Linked DNA regions of Homo sapiens: region 1 is reported to be linked to region 2. The links are microRNA targets in miRTarBase. Many come from high-throughput screens and were not tested one by one. Region 2 holds a microRNA gene; the other region holds the end of a gene's coding sequence.

Region 1 (3,000 bases), not on the chromosome of region 2:
TATACCCCCGACTCTTGTACCAGAATGAAAGGGTTTTACAAACCCTGGTCAGTGTAGGGCACACACAGCCTCTGTGACAACTCAAAAAAGCTGCATTCTCTTAGTAGGACCACCAACGATTATTTTTTTCTTTTACTAAATTATACAATAATAGACTCAAGATTGCCATTGCTTCTTCACTACCCAAAATATCCAAGTCTAGCGCAGCAGCTTCAATTCCACCAGTTGTTCTGTAAGATTTATTTTCCTGACAGAAACAACCACTGCATTATTATTTTTACATATAAAGCCACATTAAGAAGTGGATACTGAATACAGAAGCAATTGTCCTTGGTTTTCTACTCCTAAGAATGGTCACCAAGTCATAATATCCTCACCAATGGGACTGCTTCTTAACACCCCTCAGGAATTATGAATTCTGAGGTTAAATGGTCATATCATGATCAGAATAATAAAAAAAGATAGCAAAAATGTTAAAACAAGTATAGAGCATTCAGGAACAGTGAGGGGAAAAGCAATTTCTGTTTCCGTCTAAATGCAGACCTCTCCATGAAATATTTTGTGGAAGTTCTTAAGCATGGTAGAATTAACATGCATATACCCTGCACAGATTGAAACCTGAAAAAGGTATATTTTTATTTGTTTTGATAGGGAACCCATCAGTTTTAGTTCAGGGTCATTTAACCATGCAATTGTTGATGGTTAGAACCACATTTTTAACCTAACTCTATAGAAGACTGTAAAAAAGAAAAAAAAAACTTGTAAACTTTAAAAGTTTAGTGTTGATAAAAATTTTTATATAAGTAGCAAATTTATTTAATGTAGCTACCTACCTCAAGTTTTAAAAAATCTTGTGGGGGTAATAAGGCTAATATTATCCTGTAGTTAATATAAAGCTACTTTATTCAGACTCCCAGAGTCTCTTAAATTAATATTTTCATTCTTTCATATAACATTTTATTGGGTCAAAAAATAAAAATAAAATAAAACCCTACACCAGGATTCTACATCTAAGATAGTTTTAAGAGAGGAAGAGGAAGGAAGAAAAGAAGTAGGAAGGAGGGAAGGAAGAGAGAATGAAGGAAAGTAGGAAGGAAAGAAGGGAACCATTTACTCTGAAGAGACAAGAGAGAGGTAAATATCAGCAAGTCTAGGAATACAAAGAACTAGTATAGTTTGGCGACTTAATGCACCCCTAAAGTAATGTGGGTTAAAAAAGGGAAATTGCATAACAGTTTCCAGAATTGTATTCATGCTAGAACAACCAACCCGTGCGCTCACCATTCTCATTTTTCAGAGGTACCAACTAACTACAGTTTGAATACCCTTGGATATGAAACATATGTCCATTTTCCCTCTTACTCTTCTGGACATGAAGTAGAAGAAAAACAAAAGAATCATCTCTTGCCCTGTATCAATTTTCACATCATTACTCTTCAGAATTCAACGAAAAGGTCTCATCCAGGTTCCAATTTTCCATATAATCACTTTCTACCATCCTGATTTATTTTACAAACAGCAATTGTTAGAAGGCATCCATATCTGATGGCGCTACAGCTAAATATTTAAATAAAAAATGCAGGGCATGTAGTGAAGGAAACTGGGCACAGTAGGATTTTTAGAAACAAACAGTAATATCTCACTGTTCACACAGTTATTTGAGAAGCAGCAGTTAGGCTGCTAGAGTTCTAGAGTTCATCTTTGTTCTCAAGCCCACAGTCAGGGTTAGCACAGTTCATTTACAGCAAGGTGTGTCATTCACAGTTATTTTGGTCTTGACATGTGTCATGTAGATACATTTATCCACATTATTACTAGGTTGTAAAATAAGTGCAGGGCAAATTATAGAATAAAAGTATAAACATTCAAGTCGTCATACCCTGAAAAAAATGTGTTAAAGACTGTAGTTGTAAACTTTTTGCACTAAATCCCATTTCAGGAACAAAATAAATAACACCATAGGATTCACAACTGAAGGTGGCTTCCTGATGAAGCCTAAGGAAGCAGTAGCTTTTTTAAACTGCAGAAAGGAAGCTTCTCTCACCACAGATTTACTCAGGGCAAGTGGAAATACATGTTAAGAATGCTTACCCTAGTTAAGTGCTAGACAGCGCCCCCCTTTAGAAAAACAAGGCTCCGGTAGCCTATTCAGATCTACTTCCAGAATAAGACGATTCTTGAATCAAAACCATAAGTCAGTCGGCGCTTTCACTGTGACACCATGCAGAGTCGGAACTCTAACTGGTATTAAATGCACAATTAATTACTTTCAGGAAATCAGATGATTGATGGTGGTGGGAAGTTAACAGAAGTGTGGATGAAAGAGAGAGGAAGGACCCGTGCTCAGGACGGGATGGTTTGCATCCCGCCTCGGACATCCGGGACTCTCAGGGCGTTTGATCCCACCCCCACCTGGCAAAGCGGCAGGTTAGTCAGCGCCGCCGCTGGGGATTTCTAGTCTCCTCTGGGCCGAGCTGGTGTTTCGTGACTGGTTCCTTTCTCTTCTCTTCAGGACAGGGTCTCCAAGGCTGCCGGGTGTCTTGAAAAACGTCTCACGATGTGTGCGTTGGATGCTCTTGGGGGTCACTGGAACTGGTGACTGAAAAAAGAAAAAAGAAAAAACAGAAGTGAAGTCATATTGTTTCTGATCTCTGAGTAGAAAGGCAGCCCTTTCTTGACCTGTGTGTTAGGATCCCAAGGCAGGCGTTCCTTCTTCTTTGCTTTCTTATCACACTTACCCCGTTTGTCTCCCCTGCTTACCACAACTGAAAATTAAATTCATATTTGTTGTTTTGGGTGCAGAAAGGCAGTCTACCAAAGAGGTATCTTTGGTATCTGGAGCCAGGGACTGGGCTCTGCCACTGTGGACAAGTTACTTAAGCAACCTGTCCCTCAGTTTCTTCCTCCATCCAACGGCGATGGTAAAATTACTGACTTCACAAGGTTGTAGGAATTAAATAAGATAATTGTAAAGCACTTTAGAGCATGTGAGGCCAACAT
Region 2 (3,150 bases):
CAATGGGATGGAAAATTCAGCTCTACTTTTTGGTGGGTTAAAGTCAAGGAAACATTTCAGAAGAGTGTGTGGATGGGAGATACTGTACAATCATCTCTGGAGAATAAAATCTGTCAAAATGAAAGTGCTTCTGAGAAACATGTGCCCTTTTGCTTTCTTTCTTGGAATGTACCTATATAATAACTGAAGATCTACTATTCCCAAAATCATTGAGAGGGCTTAAAGGAATATTTTCTGATACTCAAGATTTTCAGGGAAATGTAAATCAGCCATACTGTTTTCAAAATGTTGCTATACAAATATAAAGATATATTGTACACTCAGGAAATTGTTGCTGAAACAATTATAACTTTATAGATATTTTCAAAAAATCTAAGTGTGTTTATGTGAAAATAATTGCATAGGCAAGTCAAACACGATACTAAGGAAACTGATGTTATGTTGCTTCAATTTCAATGCAAAGTAAAAGCCTAATAGAGTAAACAGGTATCCATACCATATCATCAAATGGAATAAAAGAGTTAGTATAACTCTTTTATTTTATTCATCAAATGAATAAAAGAGTGAGTATCCATGTTGGTTTAATGGACCTGACTGTTTTGGATGTATCTTGGTGCAGAAGACAATACCTGCAATGTCCTGAGAAATTTAAGTCTCTCTCGTTCTCTGTCTCTGTCTCTTTCTCTCTCAGGCATGCACACACATACACACAATCTGTTATGTCCAGTTTAACAGAAAAAAATAATTCTAAATAACAGGAATACCACATGTAGCTGACAAAGTGGAAATTCAGTATATTAAAGATTACCCTGGGTATTTTTCTCTCTCTTCCATAGAAATACAGGGCTATTTTTATTAATGCATGGTAATATACTAGACTGTGGTTGTATAAGTCCACATACTCAAGGCTATTCCAAGATACCAATTATAGCAGCACTGGGTTAGCTTGGAAGGCTGGAATGAACAGATTGTCTGGTCTGGGGAAGACTGATTTTACCTGTATAAGACAAAAACTAAGTCAAAATGGAGAGCAACACAGTATCATACAAAATAATCATTTCAAGAACATAACATGTAAGAATGGACTAGACTCCTAAACAATTTTTAAAACATCACAAAATATAAACTAATGTTTGAAGAGATAACAATAATTTAGACACTAATTTTGGTATTTCAAATGTAGAAAAAAATCAGTCTTTTATCCATCCAGCACTCATTCTTTTGCAAATTCCACCTCACCACTGTTTGGAGAAATCACCAACCCTACTCACTCCCAGAATATAGTTTAAATTTAAGGTTCCATCTTATAGCCTTACCTCTACTGCCACAGAATTGATCTGCTGTGGAGCTTTAATACAATTGATTTTACTCAGGTATTTTATAAAATAATTCTCAGAAACTGATAATTGCAATAAACAGTTACCAAGTACTATATTATGTACCAAGTACTTTTGCCTATGTTAGCTTATCTAATTTTTTCAGTAGCCCTAAGAAGAGATATTATTAGTCACACTTTACAGATGAGAAAATGGAGGCACAGAGAACTTACATACCTGATTGGGGTTACACAGGCAGTAAGTACAGTATTTAAACCAAGATTAAAACTCAGGCAGTCTAACAGCAGAGCATGTGTCCTCAGCTATTATGTCATTTTATCTTTAGGGCATCAAATTTGGAAAGAGTAAACATGGCTACAGGAAAACTCCAGGGAAAATGTTAATAATGATTACTTTTAATTTGTCTAAAGGGGTTAAGCTTATTACAAAGTTTCAAAAACAATGCTTATTGTGATTAAATCCTTCTTATAATTACAGATATACTCATAAACTGTAAAGTTCAAAGTTTCAAATACTTAAAGAATATAAATTACACTCTTTTTGAAGCTATTATGATATACATACCTGTCTTAGTCCATTTTGTGCTGCTATATAGGAATACTTGAAACTGGGTAATTCATAAAGAAAAAAGGTTTAATGGGTTAATGACTCTGACAACTAGAAAGTTCAATATTGGGCATTGGGTGAGAAATGCCCAGTCATAAACCTTCTAGTTTTCAGAGTCGCAAACCAATTAAACATTGAGCTTCTTCCACTCATGGCAGAAGGCAAACGGAAGCTAGAGTGTGCAGAGACATGGCAAGGGAGGAAGCCAGAGAGAGAGGATGTACCAGGCTCTTTTTAACAACCAGCTCTCAGGGAGCTAATAGAATGAGAACTAATTTACCCCTGAGGAAAGGCACTCATCTATGCATGAGGAATATGCCCCCCATGACCCAAACACCCACCATCAGGCTCCACTTGCAACCTTGAGATCAAATTTCAACATGAGGTTTGGAGGGGACAAACACCGAAGCCCTAGCAATACCACATGAGCTTTTTTATTGGGAACTTATCCATGAAAAAGCACCTATTCATTTTACTGGAATTAAGGTAGAAATTAGTTTCTCAGCTGATTAGAAAAACTGTGTCTCACTGCTATAAAAGTAGCATAGAACTCTTCACTGTTCATTAATGGCGGATCTGTGTCTGATTCCAGCCCTCACTAGGCTCTAAGATTTGGAGAACAGACATACTCACTTGTCCTCAAGGTTAGCCAGAATAGAAACAAACTCTGGTTTCTAAAGGTGTCGCTTTGAGAGTGGCCAGAAGCCTACACTTGTTTTGTCAATAAATCAAAAGCTTTGGTCTCCTGGGCTGTTTGCCCTATCCCTTTCTTGCTACTTTATTCTTCCTAAACAATAAATCAATAGGCCAATCCTAGCCAATCCTAAAATGTTTCAGCAGGACAAAGACCAGCGCATTTTTTGGAGCTAAACTTTGTGTTTCTTGCACGCTCTCTGGATACAAATAATACAGCTCTCACTTTAATGTGTGGGGTTAAGAGAGAATACTTTGTAAGTATATATGACACATCAGAGTCTATAAACTAAAGTTGCTTCTTTCCTTGAAATTGATCCTAAAACTCAAGTTGTGAAGTCATAGTGTAAAATAGTCTCTAGGTCGTGAATAACCCAACTTTGGTGCCTCCTGTGATCTTTTTATTCTGGAACGCTGCTTATATTATGTGTCTCACCTCCCACTTCCACCAGGGTCAAACTTTTTATTCTCAGGTGAGCTCCAAAATCCAGACTCAGTAAAGCAATGAGAGGAT

What was found. The annotated mature microRNA hsa-miR-4431 reads GCGACUCUGAAAACUAGAAGGU and lies in region 2 at 2,042-2,063, opposite strand. An mRNA with a match to its seed (bases 2 to 7 or 8) in the 3' UTR can be bound and repressed. Matches are read on the target gene's strand: a 7mer-m8 pairs with bases 2 to 8, a 7mer-A1 pairs with bases 2 to 7 and ends in A, and an 8mer does both.
Region 1: the mRNA of E2F7 is a reported target of hsa-miR-4431. Seed matches in the 3' UTR shown: 7mer-m8 at 9-15.

The regions. Positions count from the first base shown.
Region 1 is chr12:77,021,587-77,024,586 of GRCh38, forward strand. E2F7 (E2F transcription factor 7) reads right to left here. Exons shown (of 13, transcript NM_203394.3): 13 at 1-2,599. The coding sequence ends at 2,429. Among named protein-coding and RNA genes, the nearest start is that of E2F7, 42 kb to the right of the region's middle.
Region 2 is chr2:52,700,547-52,703,696 of GRCh38, forward strand. MIR4431 (microRNA 4431) reads right to left here and starts at 2,069; the gene lies at 1,976-2,069.